Linked DNA regions of Homo sapiens. The protein of the gene in region 1 purifies or fractionates together with the protein of each later gene. This does not show direct contact. Each region holds a gene or a part of one and is shown on either strand. Other genes may lie near its edges.

Evidence for each region.
Region 2: the proteins of FFAR1 (region 1) and DECR2 purify together in Homo sapiens (affinity purification with mass spectrometry; one large-scale study listed by BioGRID and IntAct). This does not show direct contact.
Region 3: the proteins of FFAR1 (region 1) and TMEM70 purify together in Homo sapiens (affinity purification with mass spectrometry; one large-scale study listed by BioGRID and IntAct). This does not show direct contact.
Region 4: the proteins of FFAR1 (region 1) and ATP13A3 purify together in Homo sapiens (affinity purification with mass spectrometry; one large-scale study listed by BioGRID and IntAct). This does not show direct contact.
Region 5: the proteins of FFAR1 (region 1) and RER1 purify together in Homo sapiens (affinity purification with mass spectrometry; one large-scale study listed by BioGRID and IntAct). This does not show direct contact.
Region 6: the proteins of FFAR1 (region 1) and CYBA purify together in Homo sapiens (affinity purification with mass spectrometry; one large-scale study listed by BioGRID and IntAct). This does not show direct contact.
Region 7: the proteins of FFAR1 (region 1) and VKORC1L1 purify together in Homo sapiens (affinity purification with mass spectrometry; one large-scale study listed by BioGRID and IntAct). This does not show direct contact.

The regions. Positions count from the first base shown.
Region 1 is NC_000019.10:35,346,442-35,350,827, reverse strand, and holds the start of FFAR1 (free fatty acid receptor 1), read right to left. Parts: upstream 2,927-4,386; 5' UTR 1-2,926. Other genes in the region: B-cell receptor CD22 isoform 1 precursor, read right to left, coding at 4,131-4,262.
Region 2 is NC_000016.10:400,366-404,925, forward strand, and holds the start of DECR2 (peroxisomal 2,4-dienoyl-CoA reductase [(3E)-enoyl-CoA-producing]), read left to right. Parts: upstream 1-1,519; 5' UTR 1,520-1,598; coding exon 1,599-1,678; intron 1,679-4,560.
Region 3 is NC_000008.11:73,978,975-73,983,403, forward strand, and holds the end of TMEM70 (transmembrane protein 70, mitochondrial), read left to right. Parts: intron 1-104; exon of another isoform or gene 105-197; intron 198-2,180; coding exon 2,181-2,647; 3' UTR 2,648-3,809; downstream 3,810-4,429. UniProt on the Homo sapiens protein: Scaffold protein that participates in the c-ring assembly of mitochondrial ATP synthase (F(1)F(0) ATP synthase or complex V) by facilitating the membrane insertion and oligomer formation of the subunit c/ATP5MC1 through its interaction.
Region 4 is NC_000003.12:194,476,986-194,480,825, forward strand, and holds part of ATP13A3 (polyamine-transporting ATPase 13A3), read right to left. Parts: intron 1-3,840. UniProt on the Homo sapiens protein: ATP-driven pump involved in endocytosis-dependent polyamine transport. Uses ATP as an energy source to transfer polyamine precursor putrescine from the endosomal compartment to the cytosol.
Region 5 is NC_000001.11:2,390,378-2,394,907, reverse strand, and holds the start of RER1 (protein RER1), read right to left. Parts: upstream 3,068-4,530; 5' UTR 2,950-3,067; intron 1-2,949. Other genes in the region: MORN1 (MORN repeat-containing protein 1), read left to right, coding at 3,375-3,450. UniProt on the Homo sapiens protein: Involved in the retrieval of endoplasmic reticulum membrane proteins from the early Golgi compartment.
Region 6 is NC_000016.10:88,642,639-88,645,611, reverse strand, and holds the end of CYBA (cytochrome b-245 light chain), read left to right. Parts: intron 1-182; coding exon of another isoform or gene 183-446; exon of another isoform or gene 447-2,040; coding exon 2,041-2,259; 3' UTR 2,260-2,323; downstream 2,324-2,973. UniProt on the Homo sapiens protein: Subunit of NADPH oxidase complexes that is required for the NADPH oxidase activity that generates, in various cell types, superoxide from molecular oxygen utilizing NADPH as an electron donor.
Region 7 is NC_000007.14:65,956,566-65,960,398, reverse strand, and holds the end of VKORC1L1 (vitamin K epoxide reductase complex subunit 1-like protein 1), read right to left. Parts: 3' UTR 841-3,833; downstream 1-840. UniProt on the Homo sapiens protein: Involved in vitamin K metabolism. Can reduce inactive vitamin K 2,3-epoxide to active vitamin K, and may contribute to vitamin K-mediated protection against oxidative stress.

The DNA.
Region 1 (4,386 bases):
GCCAGATGTCTCTGAGGCTCAGCAGTCCCCTCAGCGGGCTGATGGAGGATGCCCGGGATGGGCAGTGAGCCGGAAGGGGAGGAGGGCGGGTGACAGGGCCATTAGCCTGAGGTTCTAGCAGCTTGGGTGAGCAGCTAATGGGGCATCCCGGCTGGAGGTGAGGCCACGCCAGAGGAGGTGAGGGGCTGGGAAGATGCAGGAACACAGAGGGGCCAGGGAGGAATTGGGGTCCTGTCTGGGTAGGGGCCGAGTGTGTAGCCAGTGCCTCTCAAGAGCAGGGCTTGGGGGCTCGGCCACAACCCAGCGCTATTCCCTCCCCAGCCCTCCTGCCTGTTCACACCTGCGCTGGGGCCAGGTCTTCTCCACCCTTGATGCACCCCTGGGCAGGTCCCGGGCCTCACTGGCTCACCCCTGACAACACAGGGTGCCCTGTGACTGCAGCCATGAAGCCATCTCCAAGTGGCAGTGGGTGTGTGGGGTAAGGAGTGATCACACCCGGGTGCGGTTCTGCACAGGCTGTGGGCTTGTTTTAGTTTTTGCGAGGAGGGCCCCTCTGTTCTCCCTCTGCTTCCGCACTAGCCCCATGGTGGTGGCTTCCGACCTTCCCAGGGCTGGAGGAAGGAGCGGGAGGAGGAAGGCAAGGGGCGGGGGCAGCCTCTGCTGACCAGCACTGGAGGGCCCAGGTTGTGGCCCCCACTCTGCCTGTCAAGGGGTGGCACAGATGTCCAAGCCGACTCCCCCCAGGGTGCATGGCTGGGGACACTGGGGGACACTCCCCAAGGCACAGGGAATGTGGCACCGGCCGGCTGCGTAGCTTCCTTCTCTCAGCCCTGGAAGTCCTCCCAGCCTTTCATGTTTCCCACTGGGGTCACCTGAGCCTCCCAGGAGGACCTAAGGAAGATTTCTAACCTCTCTGGATGCTCTCTCAGGTGTGCCCACGCCTGCTGGTGAGAAGCCAGCTCTGCTCTGTGATTCTGTCTCTGTCTCTCAATGTGCCCGTGTCTTTCTGTCTGTCTGTCAGTCTGTCTCTATTTCCTGCCTCAGAATGACAACACAGCTCTCCACATCAGTTTTCTCAGGCGTGTATGGGTCACCTGACCACTCTGCCCCTTCCGAATTCCAGGTCCCCCATCATAAACCTCTCTCTGTGTGGCCTCCTGGCAGCTCTGGTCACCAGGCTTCAGGGGGGACAGCAAGGGGGTCTCAGCCTATCACTAACTCCCTCAAAGACACCATCTCACTGCTTTTCATACCTCGGAGCCACTAAATTGGTCCATGCTCGCCTTTTTCTCGAGAGCAGCACCTGGGGTGCAGCGCCCGCTGTGAGCGGAGAACTGGCCTCCTACTGTTCAGTGTGTTGTTGGGAACTGAGAAATGGACAGAATGGAGGAAGAATCCACAGCAGTGTGGTTTCCCCTCCTGCAGCAAGAGCGAAGCCCTGGGGAGCCATTGGGTTTTCCAGATCTTCTCTGCTTTGGCCCCACCCACCTGGCGTCTGGATCTTTGCCCAAGGTCACCTTCTCCGAGGGCCTTCCCGGGTGCCTCAGCCACACTCATCCCTCCTGTGAATCTCACTTTTGTTGTCTTTCTTCAGTGCGACATCGTCTTGGCTGGCTCCTGAGCTAGAATGCCGGCCTCCTGAGGGCAAAGGCTTTGGTCTGCTTTGTCTACTACACGTTGCACAGCAGGTGTTTGGGAACCTAAATGCACGATCCATTGTCTGGACCCTGGGAGGACTGTGAGAGCTGGGGTTGTGGAGGGCGGCCTGCGTCTGGAGTCCTGGCCCCCTAGCTTCCTGGCCACCTGCTCTTCACCTGCTCTTCACGCCTCAGCAATGTCTATTGATGGCCATATCTCATGGTCAATCAGCCATGTAGTAGGTTTATGTCAGCAGCTGTGCTGAGGGACAGGGTGGGAAGGGGAAGATGCTCGATGGTTGCCAGGGAGCTTAAGCCAGGCCCTTCAGGCTTAGGACTGCCTCAGCTCCCTCCAGGGTATCTTGCCTTAAAAACCCTTGGCGGCTCTCGACTAGAGATCCCCAAGGTTGGTCCTACGCCTTATCTTTTTGGTGTCCTAACAACTGGCTCTGTACTGGGTGCATTTCCAGGTGCTCAGTATCTGTGTGCAGAATGAATGAAGAAAGAGTTGAATGACACCAGACCCCATTTTGGGCACAGACACCCCAACACCCTCCTGTCTCATTTAAACAGTTTTTGTTGTTGTTGTTTTGAGGCGGAGTCTCACTCTGTTGCATAGGCTGGAGTGCAGTGGCGTGATCTCGGCTCACCGCTACCTCCGCCTCCCAGGTTCAAGCGACTCTCCTGCCTCAGCCTCCCAAGTAGCTGAGATTACAGGTGTGAATCACCACGCTCAGCTAATTTTTGTATTTTTGGTAGAGACAGGATTTTACCATGTTGGCTAGGCTGGTCTTGAACTCCTGACCTCAGGTGATCTGCCCACCTTGGCCTCCCAGAGTGCTGTGATTACAGGCGTGATCCACCACGCCTGGGCTTTAAACAGTTCTTAAAGCCTCACCTTCCTCCAGAAAAGTTAATGGTGCTCACAAGAATCAAACCAGGGACAAAGTGGATTGATGGGGCGATCAAGGCCTCCCTGAACCATAATTCCTAGAGTTACCGTCCGGGTACTGAGCAGAGATGGGAGGGAAAGGAAGGTGGGAGAGGAAGGTGGCAGTTTGGGGACACCTGCCACGTGCCAGGAGCCAATCTCCCTGATGATCAGATAATTACACCCCTGCCCTCTAAGGAGAATGGGCTTTAGCCCCTTTGCAGAAGCAGGTGAATGGGTGGAGAAAGATCAAACCCGAGAAGCGGAGAGGGGAGCTGGGGCACCTAACTGGAAAGTCTGAATCAGTGAACAGAATTAGAGAACGGGTGCAGAGGACCTCGAATGACAGAAAAGCTGTGAGGTTTCTCAGGGTGGCTGGTCTTCAAGACTTTCTCTGGCAGCTATGGGTTGTGCAAGAATTGGGTAGCGTCACTTTTGGGAAGAGCTGTTTTGAATCGGCTTCCCCTTTTCACATTCTTCGAAAAATGCAAATAAAGGATGGAGGTTGGTTTTCTGGGGGACTTTCGGCTTCTGTGCTGGGTCTCAATGTGGCTCCAGCATATAGAAGACGATGCCTCACTTCCTATCGTGGGCCACCTGCGTGGTAGGCAGTGGCCTTTCCCTCTCCACTTTACAGATGGAGAAGCCGAGACTCAGGCAAGCTGGCGAGCCCTGCCAAGATCACCGGGCTAGTTAAGCCGAAGAATCAAGATTCAAGTTCTCATGTTTGTCTGTCTGCAAAGCCAGTATGCTTTTCCTAACAAGACACCAGACTCTCTAATCTGCTGGTTTGATCAGTAAACCACTGTGACTCCATTTCCTTCCCCCCAGGCCCCATGAAGACTTTCCCCTCTCCTCATCCCCACTCTGACTCCACAGACTGAAAAGAGTTCACTGGTTCTTTGAAGTGGCATCTGAGCCATTTTTATTGTGAGCTCTGTCTCCCTGGCAGGTTAATCCACACCAGTGTGTCCATCTCAAACCCGGAGTCCCCAGAGTCAAGGGGCCGCTGATACGTACGTCTCCCCGTGCAATGCCTCACTTCCAAAGGAGAAGCCAGGCCAGGACTGGGCCCCTTTCTACTTCGTTTCTGTCCTTTTCTGGGCTTTCCCTCAGAGGCAGAAACTGGGCATAATATTCGTGAGTGGGGATGTCAGATCAGGGGTAGAGGGCCAGAGAGATGGAGAAGGGAAGGAAAAATGATGACGAGCAGATCCCAGGAGGGACACAAGCAGCTGGGGGTGGAGATGGCCAGTGGCCGTGGTGGGGGCAGGGGGAGGTGTGCATGTCAGGGCAGGTATTTAGATGGATTTCTGGGTAGCAAGGAGAGTGGAAGAGAACAGGGGCAGGAGTTTTGGAGGTTTGGGGTTACCCTCACCAAAAAGACTGGCTCTGAGCCAGGCACAAGGTTCTCCGCAGTGAGTGTGTGTGTGTGTGTGTGCGTGTGTGTGTGTGTGTGCGCACATGCGCGCAGGAGGAAGCCATGTGGCGGTGTCTGGGGAAACTCGGGGACTTCCCTGGCCCCCGCTGCCCCCAGTGCCTCTGCTGCAGCCCATCCAGTGTCAATGTTTGAGGATCACATAGTCCACATTTTCTTGTGCCTGAGGCCGCTCCCCGACCCCAAACTGGATCAGCTCTGAGTAATGAATCCCCTCATCTTCTGGAAAATCTGGAATGACGTTCTCATAGTCGCCCTGAGAAAACCGCATGGTGGTTAGCCTGGCCCCACTGTCGCCAGCCTCCACCGCCGCTTTTCTCCGCATTCTCTCCTTCATTCCACCCGGGGGTCCAAAAGCCCAGGCGGGTGTCCTCGTGTCA
Region 2 (4,560 bases), on another chromosome or scaffold:
CATCCCCCACGCAGGACCAACTACCTCCGTCAGCAAGAACCCAAGCCCACATCCAAACCTGCCTGTCCCAAACCACTTACTTCCCTGTTCACCTCTGCCCCACCCCAGCCCAGAGGAGTTTGAGCCACCAACTTCAGTGCCTTTCTGTACCCCAAGCCAGCACAAGATTGGACCAATCCTTTTTGCACCAAAGTGCCGGACAACCTTTGTGGTGGGGGGGGGTCTTCACATTATCATAACCTCTCCTCTAAAGGGGAGGCATTAAAATTCACTGTGCCCAGCACATGGGTGGTACACTAATTATGACTTCCCCCAGCTCTGAGGTAGAAATGACGCCTTTATGCAAGTTGTAAGGAGTTGAACAGTAAAGAGGAAGTTTTGCACACCCAGTTCCATAACGTTGTTGGATGTATGAGCCAGGCAGGGGTCCAGAGACCACCAGCCTGCAATCCGGAGAACCCAAGCTAGGCGCGAGCCGGTGCTGTGATCCCGCCAAAGGAGAAGCTGCCTTCCCGGGGAAGGGGCAGAGAGGGGCCGGCGGGCTGAGGCCAACCAGCGCAGAAAGGGCCTGGCAGCCATTACTGTAGCGCTGGCGGCTCTGTCACGCCCCTGAAGCCGCTGGCCCGCGGGTGTGTTCAGCTCAGGAGCGGCCCTGCGTGTTTTTCCCCCGTGGCCGTCGCGGACCCCCGTCTTCCAACAGTGGTGCGGGCGGGGCGCCCCGTCCTGGGTTCGCGGCATAGCCCCGCCCGGGCCCCCACGCGGAACAGAAGTAACGGACCCTTTTTTTTTTGTTTTTGTTTTTGAAACGGAGTGTCGCTCTGTCGCCCAGGATAGAGTGCAGTGGCGCGATCTCGGCTCACTGCAACCTCCGCCTCCCGGGTTCAAGCGATTCTCCTGCCTCAGCCTCCCGAGTAGATGGAACTACAGGCACCCGCCACAATGCCCGGCTAATTTTTGTATTTTTAGTAAAGAGGGGGTTTCGCCATGTTGTCCAGGATGGTCTCGAACTCCTGACCTCGTGATCCGCCCGCCTCGGCCTCCCAAAGTGTTGGGATTACAGGCGTGAGCCACCGCGCCCGGCCCCGGACCCTTCTTTATTGGCCTCAAAACGGGTCATTTTGGGAAGCGGCGCGGGGCTGGCCGCGCTTCCCTGGGCCCCGGCCCTCCCCATGGTGTTTACGGGGAGGCGAACGGGGAGCCCAGAGGCTGCGAGCCTGGCCTGGACCCAGGAGCCAGGGGTATCCCACAAGTCCTGGAGGCTCTGAACGCGGCGCTGACGCCGAATACCTGTGAAAAAGACTCGGGGAGGAGACCCGCAGACCGCCGAGCTTCTGCCGCGGGAACCGCGCCCCCGGCCCCGCAATGCGCCTGCGCCTCGCGCGCCGACTTCCAGTCCCAGCAGGCCGCGGGCGGGGGCGGGGCCTCCGGGGAGAATTCGGGGGAGGGGCGGGGCCTCCGGGAAGCAATCAGGGCAGGGGCGGGGCGTCCGGGGAGTGGGGCGGGGCTCCCGGTTCCAGGCGAGTTCGCAGCTGCGCGCCGGGTCCTGGAGGCCGAGGCCGCTCCCGCCCGTTGTCCCCGCAGTCCCCGACGGGAGCGCCATGGCCCAGCCGCCGCCCGACGTGGAGGGGGACGACTGTCTCCCCGCGTACCGCCACCTCTTCTGCCCGGACCTGCTGCGGTGAGCGGGGCCTGGGAAGCGAGCGCAGCCTTGGTGCGGGGTCCGGTCCGCGGGCGCCGGCGCCCCCACGTGGTCCCCGAGGGCTCGCGTGTTAGGAAACCTGTCTTGCCTGGCTCCTTTCTTTCTTTTTTCTTTCTTTTTTTTTTTTTGAGACGGAATCTCGCTGTGTCGCCCAGGCTGGAGTGCAGTGGCACGATCTCCGCTCACTGCAAACTCTGCCTCCCGGGTTCAAGCGATTCTCCTGCCTCAGCCCGGCTAATTTTTATTTTTAGTAGAGAGGGGGTGTCACCGTGTTGGTCAGGCTCTTTTCGAACTCCTGACCTCAGGTGATCCACCCGCCTCGGCTTCCCAAAGTGCTGGGATTTACAGGCGTGAGCCACCGCGCCCGGCCCAACCTGGCCTCTTTCTTAACAGAAAATTTTAGGTTGAAATCATTTTTCCGGAAGACCCAGAAGGCCCAGGAATGCCAGGTTTTGCCCAGCAGCTCTTCATTTTCCTGCAAACGCCTTGGTGTTCACAAGAGAAGGCAGCCCGGGCAAAGGTCGATCCTCCCCGGTCACCTGCCCTCACTCGGCTAATGGGCGGATCCTTTTTTTTTTTTCCTTTTCTTTTTTTCAATTGGCAACATTTTCAAGTTTCTATTAAAATTTTGATCTTTTGCCAGGAGCAGTGGCTCACGCCTGTAATCCCAGCTCTTTGGGAGGCCGAAGCGGGTAGATCACCAGAGGTCAGGAGTTCGAGACCAGCCTGGCCAACATGGTGAAACCCCGTCTCTGCTAAAAATACAAAAAATTAGCCGGGTGTGGTGGCGCACACCTGTAATCCCAACTACTTGGGAGGCTGAGGCAGGAGAATCACTTGAACTCGGGAGGTGGAGGTTGCAGTGAGCCGAGATCGCACCATTGCACTGGGCAACAAGAGTGAAACTCCATCTCAAAAAAAGAAAACAAGTTTTAAATTATGTTCTCCAAGGACAGGTATTGACAATTCTCTCTGAGTGTTCTGCAGGAAAAAAAAAAAGTTTTTTTTCGAAACGGAGTCTCATTCTGGGTTGAAGCAATTCTCCTGCCTCAGCCTCCCAATTCTCCTGCTTCAGCCTCAGTGCGCCCAAGTGGGACTATAGGCACACAATACCACGCTGGGCTAATTGTATTTCTAGTAGAGGTGAGTGTCACCATGTTGGTCAGGCTGGTCTGGAACTCCTGACCTCAGATGATCCACCTGCCTCGGCCTCCCAAAGTGCTGGGATGACAGGAGTGAGACGCTGCACCTGGCCCAAAATTAATCTTTAATAATTAAGAATAGGAAAGGCAACTTGGAGATCAGCAAAAGTTTGCCATCCATCTGGTACAGTTTGTGCCAGTCATACCGATCAGTACACATTTAATGCGTACAAGAAAATCTCTAATAAATAAAAAAGCCATATTATCCCGACGTAGCTTGCTGAATCTCAGGTATCATATTTGATATTAGTGCCATGCAGGGCTTAGGAGAGAGGAAATTATAACCTCTATCTTGTTTAAGCCAGGGTATTTTTCTCTCTTGTATCTACTTCTGTCCATTTCTGTCAAAAGACACAGAAATACCCTTTCCCCCACTGCACTTTGCAAGTTTGTGTCAGCACAAGTTCAGGACCAGCCTGAGCAACAAAACGATACCCCTCTCTAGAAAAACTAGATGAAAAATTAGCTGGGCACTCTGGCATGCACCTGTAGTCCCAGCTACTGGGGAGGCTGAAGCAGGAGGATCCTTCTAGCCCAAGAGGTCAAGGCGGCAGTGAGCCGTGATGGTGCCACTGCACTCCAACCTGGATGACGTAGCAAGAACCTGTCTCAAAATAAATAAATAGGCCCGGTGTGGTGGCTCATGCCTGTAATCCCAGCACTTTGGGAGGCCGAGGTGGGTGGATCACAAGGTCAGGAGATCGAGACCATCCTGGCTAACACGGTGAAACCTCATCTCTACTAAAAATACAAAAAATTAGCTGGGCGTGGTGGCAGGTGCCTGTAGTCCCAGCTACTCTGGAGGCTGAGGCAGGAGAATGGTGTGAACCTGGGAGGAGGAGTTTGCAGTGAGCCTAGATCATGCCACTGCACTCCAGCCTGGGCGACAGAGCGAGACTCCATCTCAAAAAAAATAAAAAATAAATAAATAAATTAAATAAAATACTATAATTTTATGAATTTTCATTTTATTTATTTATTTATTTTTTAAGACCATGTTTCGCTCTTGTTGCCCAGGCTGGAGTGCAATGGCGCAATTTTGGCTCACCACAACCTCCGCCTCCTGGGTTCAAGTGATTCTCCTGCCTCAGCCTCCCAAGTAGCTGGGATTACAGGCATGCACCACCACACCCGGCTAATTTTTTATATTTTTAGTAGAGACGGGGTTTCTCCATGTTGGTCAGGCTGGTCTCGAACTCCCGACCTCAGGTGATCCGCCCGCCTTGGCCTCCTAAAGTGCTGTGATTAGAGGTGTGAGCCAAGGCACCTGGCCGAATTTTCATTTTAAATCATTGCCGTATAGCAATATGGGAGGTGTATTTTAACAGGGCTCTTTTATTTTTTATTTATTTTTATTTTATTTTATTTATACATATTTTTTGAGACGGAGTCTTGCTCTTTTGCCCAGGCTGGAGTGCAGTGGTGCGATCTCGGCTCACTGCAACATCTGCCTCCCGGGTTCAAGCTATTCTCCTGCCTCAGCCTCCCAAGTAGCTAGGACTACAGGCACCCACCACCACGCCCAGCTGATTTTTGTATTTTTAGTAGAGACGAGGTTTTACCATATTGTCCAAGCTGGTCTCGATCTCCTGACCTTGTGGCCCACCCACCTTGGCCTTCCAAAGTGCTGGGAGCCACCGGCCCGGCCCAATAGGGCTC
Region 3 (4,429 bases), on another chromosome or scaffold:
AAAATTAGATTTTCATTTTTTTTTCTTGAGGTGTGTTGATAAGATGTAGAGACCTTTGCATTTTTAGATTTTTATTTGAGACAGAGTCTCACTCTGTTGTCCAGGCTGGAGTGCAGTGGCATGATCTTGGTTCACCATACTCTTCGCCTCCCATGTTCAAGCGATTCTCCTGGCTCAGCCTCCTGCTGGGATTACAGGTATGCACCACCACACTTGGCCAATTTTTGTATTTTTAGTAGAGACAGGGTTTCACCATGTTGGTCAGGCTGGTCTTGAACTCCTCACTTCAAGTAACCCACCCACCTCGGCCTCCCAAAGTATTGGGATTACAGGCGTGAGCCACCACGCCCGGCCTCTATTATGTTTTAATATTTCGAAGGGGTAACTTCCCCTCATTGCTTTATTTTTTTATTTTTTGCTGCTTTTGTTTTTCCAAATAAACTTTATAATCAACTTGTTTAGGATCTCAACTTTATTTTCCAAACAGATGGTATTTTTTATTAGGATCGTATTAAAATTATAAATTAAAGGTAAGGTAAATTTACATTTTAAGTCATTTTTTATTGTGGTTAGATAAACATAAAATTTTTCACTTTAATCATTTTGAAGTATACAGTTTAGAAGCCATTTTTTAAAAATAATTTTTATTTTTTAGAGACAGGGTCTCTGTCATCTAGGCTGGAGTGCAGTGGTGTGATCATAGTTCACTGCAACTTCAAACTTGTGGGCTCGAGTGATCCTCCCACCTCAGCCTCCCAAATAGCTAGGACTACAGACATGTGCCACTACACCTGGCTGATTTTTTTTTTTTTAAGCTAGTCAAATTTAGCAGTGGGGACATTGTATACCAACTTTAGTGATGCCAGTGTTAAGTTCTGATAACTCATTACCATCAGACCAGCCTTGGCTAATTAAAAAAAATTTTTTTTGTAGAGACAGGTCTTCCTATGGTGCCTAGGCTGGTCTCAAACTGGTCTCAAGCAGTCCTTCTGCCTACACCTTCCAAAGTGCTGAGATTACAGGCATGAGCCACTGCACTCTGCTAGAAGTCATTTATTTTTAATCTTTCTAAGGTAATAGGTAAAAATGGTATCTCAGTGTTTTTTTTGTATTTTTTATTATTTATTTATTGAGACGGAGTTTTGCTCTTGTTGCCCAGGCTGGAGTGCAGTGGCACAATCTGGGCTCACTGCAACCTCCACCTCCCAGGTTCAAGCAATTCTCCTGCCTCAGCACCCCCAGTAGCTGGGATTATAGGTGCATGCCACCAAGCCTGGCTAATTTTTGTATTTTTAGTAGAGACAGGATTTCGCCATGCTGGCCAGGCTGCTTATCTCATTGTTTTAACTTGAATGTCTTTCCTTACTAAAGAAATTGAATACCTTTCCCATATGTTTCTGTTTTTTTTTTTTGAGATGGAGTCTCGCTTTGTCTCCCAAGCTGGAGTGCAGTGTGCAGTCTTGGCTCACTGCAGCCTCTACCTCCTGGGTTCAAGGATTTTCCTGCCTCAGCCTCCTGAATAGCTGGGATTACAAGCACTTGCCACCATGCCCAGCTAATTTTTGTATTGTTAGTAGAGATGGGAGTTTCACCATGTTGGCCAGGCTGGTCTCGAACTCCTAACCTCAAATGACCCACCTGCCTCAGCCTCCCAAAGTGCTGGGATTACAGGCATGAGCCAATGCGCCTGGCCGTCCGATATGTTTTTTAACCACTGGTTTTATTTCTCTGGTGATTTGCTGTTTTAATCCTGGGCACTTAGCCTGATAGAATTTCCCATGTTTGAATATTTTATGTTAGATATACTGGAGTGCTTGTTAATAGAGAGTTTTGTTTGATAATCTGCTATCTGAATCAACTTTTGTAGTACAATATTAGTAAGGATCTTTAAGTAATATTAACTACTTTATTGTGGAACTGAGGTAGGGCCACTTAAACCCTAAAGCAGATTTCCTGCCTGGAGAGGCAGTGCATTCTAATGGTCAGTAGCAGGGACATTGAAGTCAAAATATGTAAAGTCCTTAAAACAGAGCTTAGAATATAATAAGCACTGTATTTATGGTTTGATTTTGTTGTCTTGAGCTGATACAGTAAGAAGAAAAATGGAAGAATTAGTGGGATAGATTGATTCTTTTATAAAATTTAAAAGTATTGATCCTCTCTCTTTTTTTCCCATTTAGGTGTGAAATGTTTCTCTTATTCTACGAGTCTGATTGGCCTTACATTTCTGCCATACATTTTTACACAAAATAATGCTATTTCTGAAAGTGTGCCTCTGCCTATTCAAATCATATTCTATGGCATCATGGGAAGCTTTACGGTGATCACCCCAGTGCTGCTTCACTTTATTACAAAAGGCTATGTCATTCGATTGTACCATGAGGCCACAACAGACACTTATAAAGCCATTACCTACAATGCTATGCTTGCAGAAACGAGTACAGTGTTTCACCAGAATGATGTGAAGATTCCAGATGCTAAACATGTATTTACCACATTTTATGCTAAAACAAAATCACTGTTAGTTAATCCAGTGCTCTTTCCAAACCGTGAAGACTATATCCATCTAATGGGTTATGACAAAGAAGAATTTATTTTGTATATGGAAGAAACCAGTGAAGAGAAACGGCATAAAGATGACAAATGAGCCTATTTGTTAGTGTTCGTGCTCAAATGTGATTTACGTTTTAATGTATAATAATAAAATTGCCTTTTGCATTCCGTTAGTGACTGATTGTTAAAAATAATTTGAAATTATCAAAGCTTTTAATTTCCAGAGAATGATGTTTGTTTATAATAAAACAAGCTATGTTTGAAAACCAAAATGTAGTATCTACCATTCGTGTTTTAGAAAGGTATGTGAATAAATATGTTCATGCTAGTATAAGAGTTCTGTGTTACTGTGGTTGACTCTAAACTGGGGATCTGATGTCAGTAGCAAATGGGAGAGTTGCTTTATTCTTTGTGTATGGATTTTTCTAAGTGTATAAATATTTTCCGACATTAAAAGACATTTTCTCTTTGAGGAAGACACAGTCATAGGTGGTGCGGAGCTGTGGTCCACCTGCTCCTGCTCCTGACTCACTGCTCTTTGCTGTTGCCTGAGGACCAAGTCTGTCAGGAAGCTGGCTAGGAAGCCTTGCAGCAGCCATGGCTTTTAAACATACCAGAAAAACACCCGTGGAGTCAGAGGTGGCAATTCACCGAATTCATATCACTCTAACGAGTTGCAACGTAAAATCCCTGGATAAGGTGTGTGCTGACTTGATCTGAGGAGCAAAGGAAAAGAATCAGTGAAAGGACCAGTTTGAATGCCTACCAAGACTTTGAGAATCACTACAAGAAAAACTTACGGTGAAGGTTCTAAGGCATGGGATCGTTTCCAGATGAGAATCCACAAGCGACTCATTGACTTGCGCAGTCCTCAGATAGTTAAGCAGATTACTTCCATCAGTATTGAGCCAGGAGTTGAGATGGAAGTCACCATTGCAAATGCTTAAGTCAACTGTTTTCATAAATTGATTACCAGTTGTTAAAAAATTTTCAAAAAACCGCAAAATTTCAAGAAATTCACAAATTATGGGAGCAGTTTTAAGTCTTCTTTGGTTCAGAACACAGGTTTTTGCCTAACCCCTGGCATGATTGCCCATAAGAACATACATGTACAGTTGAACTGGTGGTTAGCTATACGGGAAATGGTAAGTAGTGTTGTCTTCAGTATCTTAATTTGTTTCTGCAACTGTGCACTCCTCCCTTGGTGGCACCCTATGGGTGTAGGAAAACCACTGTTATTAAACAGGTGAAAAATACCTTGTGTAAAATTGCTGTCTCTATGCTAGCTTTGTCAAGAATATCCATTGTAAGATTTTTACCTCTATTGTAAAGTGGAGATTGACTCTTGCCAAGGATTTTTAGCCAGGAACAAGAGGCCTCAAACCACACTATTTAGATCAGTAGATATTTACTAAGTGCCCAGTACTGTGCTAGTTACTAAGATCACAGTTAAGAATGAAACACCCCGTCTGTCTTTATGGAGCTACCTAACATTGTCTATGGCCACCATGATAGTAAATTTAAACTTTATGGCGTACATGTGTATGAGGGAGGTTGATGGGGAAGCAGCAGGAACATCTGTTCAAAGAGATCATTCAACTCCCAGGCTGCTCGAAACTTATTCATAGGAGATAAGACAGAAAAGCTGTCTTTCTGAGACGTAGAGCCTGCCCTCTGCTTGGATTGTCCAGCTCACCAGACTGAGAATTCCCACCGCCATTCCTCTGTGCCATCTTCTGCTCAAGGTGGGTTTTTGCCTGCTTGCTTCTCTGTCCTTTGTCCCCTAGATGTATCCTAGCAATGAATGAGAGATGTGTTTCTATTTTTTTCATAGCAACCTACTAGATAAGGGAAGCTTGTCCAGCCTGCAGCCCAG
Region 4 (3,840 bases), on another chromosome or scaffold:
CAACACCATCTGCCATTCATCAGTGGTTATCACTCGCCCCTTACAAACCTTACATGTCATTCATTTAGAACACAATCTGTAGTTCTTCAAAGAGCCCTACTGTTCCCTGACTCCACTTCTTTATATAGAATATTCCTTCTGCCAAGAATGCCCTTCTCTTAGTCTGGCTAAAGAGCTCCTACTTGCTCTTCCAGGACCAGCTCAAGCTACTAAGCTTTGATTGTCCCTTCCATCTCCTAGCAGAGGACTGCCCCCACCTTTCTCCCACCTCTGCAGGTATCAGAGCACTTTTCCAACAACGTTGAACTTATAGACTAAAAACCTTAAAGGCTGGGAACCAGGCAAGCATCCAGCAGTGCAGCTGAATAAAGGAGACAGGGCAAGACTGGGTGAAGGAGGGGTGGAATCCCTCTTCTTTTTGTGGGCAAAATTTGACAACAAAGTAATTTTGTCTTTGGCATGCTCCCGCATCTCATCCCTATTCCCCTTTCCCAGCTCTCCCAATATCCTGTGTTCCCAGGTCCCTTAGTGACCTCATGGAACTCTACACAACCTCCACCACAGCACTATGTTCTTCAGATCAACCCTTCCTCTTCCTCTTAATCAGGATCCTTCTGTTCAGAAGTTAACACATAAATTAGTGACAGCTTCTCATAGCTGTTAACCTAAGATGAATCACTAAGAAACAAAATTTTAAAAGAAGTATGGAGAGGATATGGGGAGTGGACACTCTATCGCACAGAAAGACTGGCCCAGAAGCATCTAGGAGTCTCTTCCTGACTGGGCCCCCCAGAAGTGTTTCCACCTCACTTCATCCACTCCTACAGATTAGCTGCAGTGAGTGCTACAGGTAGAGACAGAGCTGGGGCAGACACTACCATCCTACAGATCATCCATTCTTCTTGGGTTGAATACCTCTGTGTCTTTGTTTTAGTTTGAGACCACTTATGGTTAATTCTTCAGCAGACAGAAAGTTCTCACCAACATGTTCACCAATGAACTTAAAACAGTGTCTTCACTCTAGCCAAGCAGTTCCCTGAAATCTAACCCCAAACTACTGCTTGACTAGAAAAAGGTAAATTAAATCAGAAAACCAAGATGTTGTCAAGTATCCTAATTTTTCAGATAAATCTGTAAATATTAAATTAGCATTCTAGCAATAATCATTCTGGTTTATTGCCAATTTGATTTCATAAAAACTCATTTGTTAGAATGGTATTGCCTACCATGTGCCAACTAGTGGTCTAAATGCTGGAGGTTACAAGATTAAATTTCTAACCTTAAGGAACCACATCTAGTAGGCTAGACAAATAAGTAAGCAAACAAATATCAAACAAAATGGTGACCAATGGCACCAGGGAGAAAGAGAGAACCAAGAACAGAAAAGACTTCAAAAAAGAACTATCTCTTGATCTAAGACCAGAAGGATGTAAACTTGATCAAGCAAACAAGCAGTAAGAGGAAAAATGTTAGGGAGAAAATAGAGAGATGAAACCCAAGCAGGGGAACTGCCACATGCAGAGGTACTATAGTGAGAGATCCTAAAAAATGCCAGGAAAACAAGTTATTTAAACTGACTGGTGCACGGGGTGATAGCCTTTGAGGAATAATTACAAATGGAGGTTTAGAAGGATAGGACAGGATCAGATTATAAGGAAGGGTCTTGTTAGACATGATAAACAATACAGATTATCTTGTAGGTGATGGAGATTCTGAACTTTTGTCACCTGAAAGAGATCCTAGGCCAGGCCAAGGAGCCATATTCCTGAAGAATACAACGTGAATGGTATCCTCTGGACTTGTGCAATGCAACAGCACAGTGTTTACCTGCTGGACTGTGTATGTGTAAGAGAGAAGAACTCATTCATCGATGTCTCCCCAGCATCCAGCCCTGTGTTTGGCATGTACAGGAACTAAAACACTATTAAATAGTTAGAAGTACCAACACAGTCCTAAAGGCATAACCAAGAGGCCCTAACCAAGCCCCCTTCCTTGCTACCTATAAAATCACAACTCTTATACACTACAATAACTTATCATTGCCACAACTATTAAGGGAACATGAAGAATAGTGAGTCACTATGGGCCGCACCAGAGATTAGAAAGGATTGGGGCGGGGGGTACTCTTTAAGATGCTTCTGAATCTGACTAAATTAATGAGCTTATTCTATTCTCTTCATCAAACACTGAACAGAAAACCATGGGTTAGCTTAAAATTATTCTTCAACTAACTCTAAGGCAGTGCTGACAATTATGAAAAGTACATTTTCATATCAAAAAGACCCATTAAATATTTCAATTAAGCGTGTGCTAGGTTAGTCTAGTCTTTCAAGTAAGTGCTACAGACAAAATTATGTCATTTGCCTATTGTACTTTACATTTTACTTAGTATACTAATCTACTTATTATAATTAGCATTAAATAGGTTTCTATCTTTTGTGCTTAGGAAAATTAGAAACATAAACATTAAAAAAAGGAGAAACAAGGAAACTACAGATGAAAATTGTAAATGAGCTTAGAAAACTGGTGACTTAAGAAGCTAAGGCATGATCTAGAGATGAATGAAAAATCTTTGGTCTAAAAAAATAAAGTAAAATAAAATAAAATTTAAAAAAAAGAAAAATCTTCGGTCTATAAGGAACCAGTGACTAGGATTCCATGTTTAAAGAAATCTAAAGGTCACAAAATTGAAATATAATTCAAAGTCTTCTTTAAAAAAAAAGTAGAAATATTTGACTAATCAGAATTTTTAAATGAAAATAATGCATATAAAGTCCTATAAAATAAATACAATTACAGATAGTTTTAAATTTTATAAGGTGGTCAGAGACAGAGACATTGGGTAACAGTAACAAGATGGGAGAGAAAACAGACTGCAAACACACCAGAGACACAAAGAGAAAAACTAAAATATACATAAAATGTATATCGGAGATACATGAGGTTAACATCTTGAGCTTTTGAGGATGTTGCTACTAAAGATACAAAATCATAGATTGTTTTGGACATAAAAAGCCTGAATATAACATTATTGCCTGCTGTTCCAGTTAACAAAAAAACAAAGAGCAATCATCAATCACACCCCACACACACATCTGACTTGTTTTGAATATCTTCAATGTTACTAAGTTAACAAATAATAAGTTACCCTTCACTCAGACTCTTATCCTTACAATTCTCTAAGGTACCCTTTATCACCTCTATCTGGCAAATAAAAAAGCTCTCAGAGGTTCAGTGACTTACTTAACCCAGACTACAAGACTGGTATGTGACAGAGCTGTAATTCAAAATCACTATGGCTCTGAAGCCCACATTTTTATCCAATACACCATGCCCTCTCCCAGGACATAAGACTGTTAAGTTTTTAGCCACCATCATGTTTTTACATACTCATGTTTTCTTACTGTGCTATCCCCAGAGTAATACTTAAGTTTAGATACTTTAAATTTCATGGAATCCATTAATAATTTACATCGCTCTTTTAAAACAATGCAGATCTTGCTAGCAGTAAGGAATAAATTTATTCTTTAAAAAAACAAAACAAAAACACTCAAAGTAGTTGAGTATCCCCTCAGAATGACAGACAGTACCAATAATCTCCTAATATTCTCAACTTTATTACCTAGCCTTTTAATTATACTAGATCTTTTTGTGGCATAACCTTACGGAGATAGCAGATGTTCATAAATACCTAAGTTATTTCTCCATTATTCACACTGTGGAGTCACATCATATATGCACTTAATTAAAACCAATTCAACTACTTACACTCTGGGGGGAAGCAACAGAGAAAAATAATTTGAATAATGATGATAGTATGCCTTCCTTTACATCCCTGTC
Region 5 (4,530 bases), on another chromosome or scaffold:
CTCAGTACCCAGGGCCTGCCGGTTGTCATTCCTACTTTAAAGATGAGAGGCCTCCTGGCCCCTGAGCTAGAGAAGACGCCAGGGGTGACGTTCACCTCCCCCACCACCCCCCATCTGCTCCCTCGGCAGGGCAGTGAGGAGAAACAGACTCTGGTCTCAAGTTTGGCTTAAAGTCCCACCTGTGCTAAGCGGCTGTGAGGCCTTCAGCAAACCCTCTGAGCACGCAGCCAGCCTCAGTTTCCTCATCTGTAAAATGAGGCTCTAAGAAATACCAGACATGAAAGCAAAGACATCATTCCTCAGCAACAGTTGGGGTCAGTCTTATTGTTCTCATTTACAGATAAGAAAACTGAAGCTCACAAAGACTAAAGAGTTGCCCTGGCCCATCAGCATGTTCGCAGTGGGCAGGAGCCAGAACCTGCACCTTCCTGAAACCAACGCTTTTCCAGTCCCATCCTCACTGTGAGCACTGGGGAAATCTTCCCTTCAGGTGGAAGGCAACAGGTGGCCAGACGCAATCCCGCCCTCAAGTGCCTTGGCTCTCCCATCACAACTGATGCGCTGAAGTGATCCAGGCAGCTCCCTCCACATCATCAAGTCTGTGCAGAATGTGGCTCCATGACACCGTTCCTGGATCCTCTGTGCAGAGTGCCAGGCTGCTCAAGGAGACCGAGGGGCCCTTTGGTCTCGCGGAGCCGTGTAAACCAGACACAGAGGAGGAGCACCTTTACTCTCCACTGAAAGAACTCCATATTTAAATAGAGGCTACACTAAAATGTGTCACCTGGAATGGCCACCCTATTTAGGCCAAAGCCAGGCCATCTGAAAGCCACCCGTCACATTGTTCGTCCTATAGCTCCTTGTAAGTTTCCCCGTTTTACTCAGACTGTTTCCCATTAAAGCACTTTTACTGGACTGGAGGTGATGAGAGTAATGTCAGGGAGAAAATACCCAGCTCTCCCGCCAAAGGGTGTTCTCTAGGCAAAGCTCAGAACTTCTCACTCTCCAACTGAACATGTAGAAAACCTACTCAAAACGCCATCAGCCAATCCTGCTTGTCTGACACACACAACACGTATACCAAACACACACGTATACCAAACACAGCTTGCACCCTGACTGAACGCATTGCCAGGAATAGCCTGAGGCAGGGCGGCAGGAGCAAGAACGTGAACTTTGGACTCCAACAGCCTGCTTTCAGATCCTGGCTCTACCACTCTCTGCCAGTGTGACTAGGACAGGCTATTCCAGGATGCCTCAGGTTCCAGTCTGTGAAATGGGACAACAGCACCTCTCATGCCTTCTCCACAAGGCTCTCGTGAGGAATCAGTGGGCAGCCCGTGGAGCACCCTTGGAGCCGGGCAAGGCAGTGCCAGCCCTGTTCCTGGATCAGGGCCAGCCCTCACACCAGCTGCCCCCTCTGCAGTCCTCTTCTCTGCTCAGTTTGAAGCCCACCTCCTCTTCACAGGCCTCCGTTACCGCCCACACTGACCCCCAGTCCCTTACATCACATCACCCTATTTTTATTTTGTGTACAACTGTTTCCTGATACCTTTCTGGTTTACTTCTCAATTTTCTCCTGCTAGAATGAAGCTCCTTGAGGGGTCCCTTGTCTGGTTCGGGGCTGGGCCCTGCCACCTGGAAGTCCATTACATAGTAGACAGCCCATCAATTACCTGTTGAAGGTGACTGCTTTATGCCTGGTCACAAACAAAACAGAAAGGGAGATAAAACCAGTCCAAGCAGAGACCATGAGGACGTGCCAGAAAGTGTAAGACTCTCTATGTGCCTTGTTCCAGGCCCGTCACATTCATCCACATCTGTGGTCCATCACTCTGCACGTGGAAAGGATGAAGTCCTCTGCCTGGCGTCCGGGAGCATTGACAGTCTGGCTCCCACCTTTCTCTTCACGTCCCCATCCCCAATTCCTCCGGGACTAAGAAAGCCCCCGGCTGCCGTGCACCAAGCTTCACGCCTCTGGTGTTGTTCAGTCCTCTGAAATGCCCTCCCAGACCCCGTCTCTTCCTCCTTCCCAAGGCCACATTCCAGCCTGGGCTCCCCGCTCCTCTGGGCCTGACCATCTTATATCTCCACCTGGCTCTGACACACTGTTACCGCCGTCGCCGTCACCTCAGGCATACGGCAGAAGCCATGTGAGAGTCTGAATTACTGAGAACCCTTTATCCACTTACGGGGATAACTGCATCTTCCTGGGAAATGTCAACTCAACTAAAAATAAAGTGCTTCCAGGACTAGCGGCCAGTCTCTACTCTTCATAAAGGGAAAAGGGCAAAAGCCCACTGAAGGTACTTAGGCTGAAAGCAGCCCTCTGTGCTGTGAGACACCTGGCAGAGAAACGAACGATACCTTTATCAGTGGGGCCACAGACCAGTACTAAGTCAGCCTGGAGAATTTATGATTTTATTGCCTATTTAGAATACGATCAAAACCGATGTAACTAGTTTCCCTTCAGCCCGTCAGTAACGCCTTCACCCCAGAGCTTAACACTAAATCCTACAGATAAGCGCTGACCTGGACGCAGGATGGGGACAGGGCACATTACTCTGGAATACAGCCCAACTCGCAGCGCTGTGGGGGCCGCGACTGCCCGCTTCCCCCAGATGCCAAGCAGGGGATGCGGACGAGATGCGGCCCGGGTGGCTCGAGGGCTGCAGCCCCCGCCCGGCCCCTCTCCCGCTCCCCCGACCCTCGCAGGCCCCAGGGCTCCGCCGCACCCCCCAGCACCCCGTCCCGGGCCCGACCCCGAGGCGCGACCCGTACCCCTCAGGGCCGCGGGTCGGGAACACGGTCCCCGCGGCCACCCGGGCCCCGACGGCCCTCCCCGCCCGGCCCTCAGCGCGGCCCCGCCCGCCCGCGGCCTTGACAGCCCGGAAGAAGCGGAGGCGGCGCTGCCCGGCCGTTCCCGCGCCACGCAGCCCTTCCTGGCACCTCGCAGCTCCGCTACGGCCGAGCCGCGGTCTCCCTCACGGCCGCGGGAAGGAGGACGGCGGGGCACGGGCGGCCGCAGGCGCTGCGCTCCGGCTCCGGGAAGCTGCAGCGAGCACTTCCGCTCCGTCCTCCGCGGCGCCGCCTCCAGGGCCCCCAAGATGGCGCGAGGGCGGGGCCAAGGGCTCCAACCATTTCCGCTTCCGGCGCAGACGCGCAGGCCGTTGGCGGGCGGGCCTCCCGGCGGAAGAGACGACAGCGGCGGAAACGCGCACAGGCGCAGCTGCGTCCTCTGGCTCCGGGCCCGGCTAGCTTCGCTCCAGAGATTGCGCGGGCTCAGGGACTAGGCCCGTGGCCACACCCCCCCTTGCGACAAAGACCAATGGAAGCGGGCGTTGCTGGTCGCTAAGAGAACCCTCGGCGGCAAGATGGCAGCGGCGGGCGAGGGCACCCCGAGCTCCCGCGGGCCGCGTCGGGACCCGCCTAGGCGGCCGCCCCGGAACGGTAACGACTGCGGGCCACGGGACAGGTCGCTGGCTGCCCTGGGCTCCATTCAGGGTGCGATCGCTCTACGCCCTCGACCCCCAAATGCTCACCTCGGAAAGTAGAGGTCCAGGTGCCGCGGCGGAGCCAGGGCCGCCCCCGCGTCCCCCACTCCCACAGGACTCGCCGTGCGCCTCGGGCTCGGCTCGCACCCTTCCCCGAGCCCTCCTCCCGCAGCAGGCCAAGCCCTGCAGGGGGTCGCCCCCCGCGGGCTCCTAGCCGGGAAGACCGGGTTCCGGCCGCAGCCTCACAGCCAGCGGGACCTGGGGTTGCCATGGGGATCCCGAAGCCCAGGACTTGGGGCGAGGGCAGGCGCAGGAGCAGCACCAAGCCTCCTGACTTCCTGGCCGGTGCTGTCCAGAAACGCTAGGACGCGTTTCAAAAGCAGTTTTTGCCTGTACTTCCAGCACTTTGGGAGGCCGAGGCGGGTGGATCACCTGAGGTCAGGAGTTCGAGACCAGTGTGGCCAACATGGCGAAACCCGGTCTCTACTAAAAAATACAAAAATTGGCCCGGGGTGGTGCCTCCTGTAGTTCCAGCTACTCGGGAGGCTGAGGCAGGAGAATCGCTTGAACCCAGGAAGCGGAGGTTGCAGAGAGCCGAGATCGCGCCGCTGCACCCCAGCCTGGGCGACAGAGCAAGACTCAGTCTCAAAAAAAAAAAAAAGAGCAGGTTTTGATAGGAACTGTTTCTAGAATCAAATAAACGGGTCTGGAATGAACTCAGAGCTAACACTACTATCTTCAGGTAGAACCTGACCCTGATTTGGGACAGATACAGTAGCCTGTAGTAACCCCCTGCCCTCCTCCCCGACATTTTCCCATAAACCCTGCCCACAAAATGTGCCTGAGGAGCTGGTAGGGAGGGAGCCCTGCCCATTCCTGGAACTGCAGGAGTTGGCGGGTGGCACACCCAGCAACTAGGAGGAGATGAAGCCGGCCAGGCCATCCTTGGGTATGAGTGTGGATTTTCTCCCCAGCGATAGGAGGCCACTGAAGGGCCACGGCAGGGGATGGGAGAGTCTGCTCCTCCCCTGTGTGC
Region 6 (2,973 bases), on another chromosome or scaffold:
GATCTCTCTGAGAGGCCAGGGATGGGTGGGAGGACAGGGCGCAGCCTGGCCAGGCCTTGGGTGAAATGCCCTCTGCCTGCCCTGGGCTCCGGAACAGACGGCTGCAGGCCACCTCTCACTGCGGGGGTCTCTGGGTGGACAGAGCCCTCAGACTTTGCTTATTTAAATCCTTTTGTCCATAGAGCCAAGTCCCTCCTGCCCGCAGAGGCAACTGCCCTCCCCTTGCTGTGCGTCTTCTAGTGTGTGTGCGTGGGAAAGGTGCAGCACTTTCTGTGTACGCCTTCCGCGTATGGAAGTGGAGTTCTGTTTCAAGCCTCACTGACCTGCCACCGGCAGAACTCTCCTTTAGAACCCCTTCCTGTTGCCAAGTGCTCATCTGGGCTGTTGCTTTGTTTTCCGGGGGCCACCCGCATCCCCCCCGTCTCCCTGCTGCCACGCACAGCTAGTGGCTCCTGGAGACCTCGGGAGGAATTCCTTGTGCTAAACCCAGAGAGGAATTGCTGGGTCAGGCATCAGCCTCTGCACCGTTCACCCTGCCGGGCTCAGCTGCTCCTCAGCAGACAACCCACCACCAGCCATGTGGCCCCATCTCTCCCACCATGCACTAGGCTTTCTCCCACGCTTGCCAGTTTCACAGCACGAGCTGGCCGTGTGGAGCTTGGACTCGCCCTTCTCTGACTGTGGATTTGAGCTGTTGGAGTTTCTTCTCCCTTGAGTTGCCTGTTCAAATCCTTTGCCCATTTTTCTATTGTGGTTTTTGTATTTTTCTTTTTCTTCTTTTTTTTTTGAGATGGAGTCTCGCGCCATCGCCCAGGCTGGAGTGCAGTGGCGTGATCTCGGCTCACTGCAACCTTCGCCTCCTGGGTTCAAGCAATTCTCCTGCCTCAGCCTCCCGAGTAGCTGGGACTACAGGCACGTGCCACCATGCCTGGCTAATTTTTGGTATTTTTAGTAGAGACGGGGTTTCACCGCGTTAGCCAGGATGGTCTGGATCTCCTTGACCTTGTGATCCGCCCGCCTCGGCCTCCCAAAGTGCTGGGATTACAGGCGTGAGCCACCGCGCCCGGCCTGATTGTCTTTTTCTTAAGTTGCAGGAAGTCCACATATATTTTAGCTATTTAGCCTTTGTAACCTTTAAACACTGGGGATGCCTTCATGCTTTCTGGTGAGGGTCTGTTAACTTGGCGCGTGGAGTCCTTCACTGCACGGAAGAGCAGAGGTTTCCCTGTTCACCTGCTCTATGGTCTGTGCTTTGTGAAAACACCTTTCCCTGGCCCTGGGTCCTGCCTTCACGTTCCTGCCTTTTCTTCTATCAGCCTTCTAGTTTTGCTTTTCAGAATGGAATGTTTCCGTTTTGGAGTCAGGTAGGATCACACATGTCCAGTTTCTCTTTCTGTTCATGACGTATATGATGTGACATATTTTTCCACCAGATATTATGGGATAGAAGATGAAAAGCACACACTCCCAGGTCCACTTGACCTGTTGCAGTGGAACCTCCGGGCATGGGCCCAGGAGTCTGTATTTTTAGTAAAAGCCAGTGGAATCCCGTGGTCTTCAAGCTCTCCCCCCACCACCCCCATGTGCAGAAATGCCTGGGCACCCTTGGGGGGCTGCCGGCCAGCGTGGGTGAATGGCGCCCACCAGACGGAGCAGGGCCTGCTACTCTCCTGGGCCACCCCTCCTGCTGGACCTCGGGCCTGCCTCCCTGCCTTCCCTGCCCTTGGCACCTTGAGAGGAGAATTTGAGTACTAGAATTTGCATCTGGGAGTGTCCACCACGGGATCTTCCAGAAGCCCAGGGGTTCGGGCCCCACTCCTGGCATGAAGAAATAGCTTGGGCTGGTGTCAGGCCGACCCAGGTCCTGGCTGTGTGGCCTCGGGCGCGTCACTTAACCTCTCTGAGTGGCAGTCACACCATCCTGCGTGGGATTCAGACTTGAGCCTGTCCCAGGGCCCCTAGCGGGGTGGGCCTCCGGGGAGGGAGGGAGGGAGGGAGGGCGGGCGCTGGGGCGCGGCTCAACCCTTCAGTGCCCCGCAGGCGGCTGTGCGTGGCGAGCAGTGGACGCCCATCGAGCCCAAGCCCCGGGAGCGGCCGCAGATCGGAGGCACCATCAAGCAGCCGCCCAGCAACCCCCCGCCGCGGCCCCCGGCCGAGGCCCGCAAGAAGCCCAGCGAGGAGGAGGCTGCGGTGGCGGCGGGGGGACCCCCGGGAGGTCCCCAGGTCAACCCCATCCCGGTGACCGACGAGGTCGTGTGACCTCGCCCCGGACCTGCCCTCCCGCCAGGTGCACCCACCTGCAATAAATGCAGCGAAGCCGGGAGCGCGTGAGCCTCTGCCTGGGGCCGGTGGGCGGGGCTGGGGTAGCGATGGTTCCCGAGGCCTGGGCAGGCACCCCGTTTCCTGCCAGCCGGGCCGCATTCCAGTTTCATTAACATCAGCATCGCCTTCCTTCTCAGCAGCACACGAAATCCCGGGTACCGTATATTCCACGAAATATAGTACCTGGATTCCAGGTGTGTGCCTCCCTAGAAAGGTCCTCCCGGGCCTGGAGGAGGCAGCAGAGTCCTCCCTTGACAGCTCCTGCAGGCCCTGCAGGCCCTCCACACCTAACGCCTCCCTAAGGGGCTTGGATTCCAGAGGAGGCCGCTGGCGTTAAGTGAAAAGGGAACAGGGTCGGAGCCACGTGGTGAGCCTCTACCCTGCGCCTCTTTTCCGTAGAAGCTGGGGTGAAGCTGGTGGCGGATGTGGCCTTGTTTGCCCCCACACTGATGCTGGGGGGCCCCCCAGCTGCCCAGGACGCTCAGGCCAAGTTGCAGGGGCTTCTGGCCACCCCTTCCCCTCACTTGTGCGGAGGCTGTGGCTGGCTGCACACACACCTGCCCACAGGTCCTCACCACCACCCCAGCCCGGTGCCCCCAAAGCTTTGCCCGGCGTCAGCCACGTCCCCCACCTTTGGGCTCTCGCCAAGGC
Region 7 (3,833 bases), on another chromosome or scaffold:
AGCACTTAACAGGGTCTGTGTGCCAGTTTCTACATAGTTAAGCTGGCAGTGTCTGAATTGGAAGGTTAGAGGTAACTGGTTCTCCCAGAACATTGTTTTGACCTCAGCCATAGGGTCTTGACAGAAATGGACAGATGAGTGTAAAAGCCTATTGGCTTTATCATAACGGATGCCACTGAATGTGACAGGACCTCCTTAAACAACTTTGCCTACAAATCAGCATTCCATGCCTTTACACCCCAAAATGACGCTACCTGCCCCCTCCCAGAGCACAGTCTTTCCTTAAGGAATCTGTCCTCCCTCTCTTCCTGGGCTCCAGTAAGGCAAGGATGGTGCATCAATTCTGATTTGAAGTATACGCTTTGGAAAAATACTCCTTTTGGTGTCCAGTCAGTTGAAAGACAATGAACCAATACAGTTTGTTTTGTTTGTTTTGAGACAGTCTTGCTCCGTCGCCCAGGCTGGAGTGCAGTGGCGCAATCTTGGCTCACTGCAACCTCCACCTCTGGGGTTCAAGCAATTCTCCTGCCTCATCCTCCCAAGTAGGTGGAACTACAGGCATCTGCCACCATTCCCAGCTAAATTTTTAAAAATATTTTTAGTAGAGATGGGGTTTCACCATGTTGGCCAGGCTGGTTTCGAACTCTTGACCTCAGGTGATCTGCTCGCCTCAGCCTCCCCAGGTGCTGGGATTATAGGCGTGAGCCACTGTGCCCGGCCTCCAATATGGTTCTTGCTATAGAACTTGATTTTCCCCTCTCTTGTGGTTGAGCCCCGTGTCTCCACACAGACCCTCCTTTTTAGCTTTCCTGTGCAAGCTCCATGAAAGAAAGAATAAAGTTAATTTCATGTGGTTTTATTAGGCATCGTCCATTTTTTAAAAATGAGTGTAGTCAGTTCCAATTAGGAATCTAGAGCTTCTGTATTTTTTTTATCAACTTCTCTTTAGTTTTTCAAAGGAATCAAGTTTTGTGTTCCAGTATGTCAAAGTATAATGAATAAAACTTTTAGTTGACAAACATTAAGAAAAGTTAAATGTAATAGACACATTTAAATGGTTTACAAATTAGGGGCAGTCCATTGTTTTTTTTCTTGAGCTGGAGTCTTCCTCTGTCGCCTAGGCTGCAGTGCAGTGGCGTGATCTCGTCTCACTGCAACCTCCGCCTCCCTGGTTCAAGCAATTCTCCTGCCTCAGCTTCCTGAATAGCTGGGATTACAGGCGCACACCACAATCCTGGCTAATTTTTCTGTATTTTTCAGTAGAGGCAGGTTTCACCATGTTGGCCAGGCTGGTCTTGAACTCCTGACCTCAAGTGATCCACCCGCCTCTACCTCCCAAAGTGCTGGGATTACAGGCATGAGCCATTGCACCCAGTGGGGGCAGTCCCTTTCCACAGGTCTTGAGCTCCAGCACAGAACACACTTGTTCTATTCCGTGAAGTATGGCTCAGCTGTATTTCCAACGGATTCATCTTTCTTGCCGATGCTACCTTTTTAGAGGATTATACAGGGAGTATTCAAGGTAAGCTAAAGTAAAACTATGGAAAAACAGCTCATTAATACATTCTGAGTGTTCACAGAACTGTAGGCAGTGACACATTTTTGTCATTAATTCTTGACAATCACATACACCGTAAACCTACAGGAATTCCAAGAACTAGAGGTCTGAGGACTCTGAATCTTCTGCAAGTTACATATGATTTAAGAGAAAAAGAATCAACCCTGTATACCTTAGAAATGAGGTTACAGTATTGACTTCAAGAATATAAGGCTCCTACTGAGTCTAAAAAGACTTCGTTTCAGTTCTTTTGGAATGCAACCCTGCAGTTTAAGAATAATGGGAGCACAACTTCCACAGGTAACTTCTACATTTATTTTATACCAAAAAAGTTATGTGCAACAAATAAACATTCTTACATATTTACATTTGGTTTTATTTACCAGTTAGCAAAACAGTGCCTTAAATCTCTGATAAAGAGTATTTCTATCTAGATTAAAGGGGAAACCTGCCCAGTGAACTCCATTTTAAATGACTGTTTACTCTGGAGCTTAAAGCACTAGTAAGAAATATTTCTGATGGAACATACTACACAGATCATATACCTAATAAATACTTAGGCCATGCTTAATACAGTTTTATAACAAAATATTTCACCTTTTCTGGGCGAATTTGTAGTAAAAAATGTTTAACCAAGTAGCCGGGGCTCCCACCCTTGCCCTTTTTGTTTGATGGAAGGGTAGTTCTCACAATTAGAAACCATAAGTGCTGCCTGAGGTGTCTGAAATGTTTCACCCATGACTGTGTGTTAGAGAAAAAGACACGAGGACAGAAATTGCATATTAGGTCATTAGGTCTTTTTCCCCAAATAGGTTACCAGAAATCACAGTGGGTCTCCTTGTTGGCATCTAATAATGATCTTCCAAGACAAGATCTCCTGTCACTCTTGGTACCAATCTAAGTTGTGAAGTAATTGCTGAAGATAACTCTGTACTTTTGCAAATAGTCTTTTCCAAAACTAAATGAAAAACAAAAGTCAACAAATAGTTTTTATTTTTATTTTTTTATTTGAGACAGAGTTTCACTCATTGCCCAGGCTGGAGTGCAATGGCGCAACTGTGGCTCACTGCAACCTCCACCTACTGGGTTCAAGCAATTCTCCTGCCTCAGCCTCTGGAGGAGCTGGCATTACAGGTGCCGCCACCATGCCCAGCTAATTTTTGTATTTTTAGTAAAGACAGGGTTCCACTATGTCGGTCAGGCTGATCTCGAACTTCTGACCTCAGGTGATCCAACCGCCTCGGCCTCCCAAAGTGCTGGGATTACAGGTGTGAGCCACCATGCCCAGCCAGCAAACAGTTTTAATTTCACTGTAGTCTTGGTCCTCTTTGAATGCAGTCTCTCTCTTTTTTTTTTGGGGGGGGGACAGTCTCGCTCTGTTGGCCAGGCTGGAGTGCAGTGGCATGATCTTGACTCACTGCAACCTCTGTCTCCCGGGCTCAAGCAATTCTCCTCCCTCAGCCTCCCGAGTAGCTGGGATTACAGGGGTGTGCCACTGCGCCTGGCTAATTTTTGTATTTTTAGTAGAGATGGGGTTTCACTATGCTGGCCAGGCTGGTCTTGAACTCCTGACCTTAGGTAATCCACCCGCCTCGGCCTCCCAAAGTGCTGGGATTATAGGCGTGAGCCACCGTGCCCGGCCGAATGTAGTTTCTTTGAATGAAAATAGTCAATGCTTTGAACATCATTTGAAAGTAATGAATTTAAGGAGAGGACACATGTATGAAGGAACAGTGATTCTGGGCACACAGCTAGTTAAACCTGAGTTATTTCACCGGAAATTTACCTTTAGTGAGAGCAACTAGCTGTAATGCAAAACAAATGAAATCCTCCAAATCACCTAGATTCCCTAGAATTTATCATCTAACCCCAATTCCTGTTATTTCTTCAAATGATATTTGTGAACATCAAGTCAATAAATGGCTTCATTTGGAACAAATCACTTAAAAAAGATGAGGCATGGAATTACTGCTAAAAACAAATGTTTCCCCTCATCTGTCCTTTAACACTGGTGGCTAGTAATGCTGCAGTGTTCAAATATTCAGTCTAAAACAGGCAAAACAATCTTCTAATTTTGTAACACTGGTGATTCCCCCCCTCTTCTGGGCAGAATCGGAGGTATAGAAAGGAATCTGAATTCTCCAGGGCAAAAAACACCCAATTAACACCCACCAGGATTCTGTTACTGAGACACTGGCATTACAATGCTGTTATGACAGGCAGTACGTGTTCCTCTCTCAGTGAGAAAAAGGGTATTAATTCGACTGGGCCATAG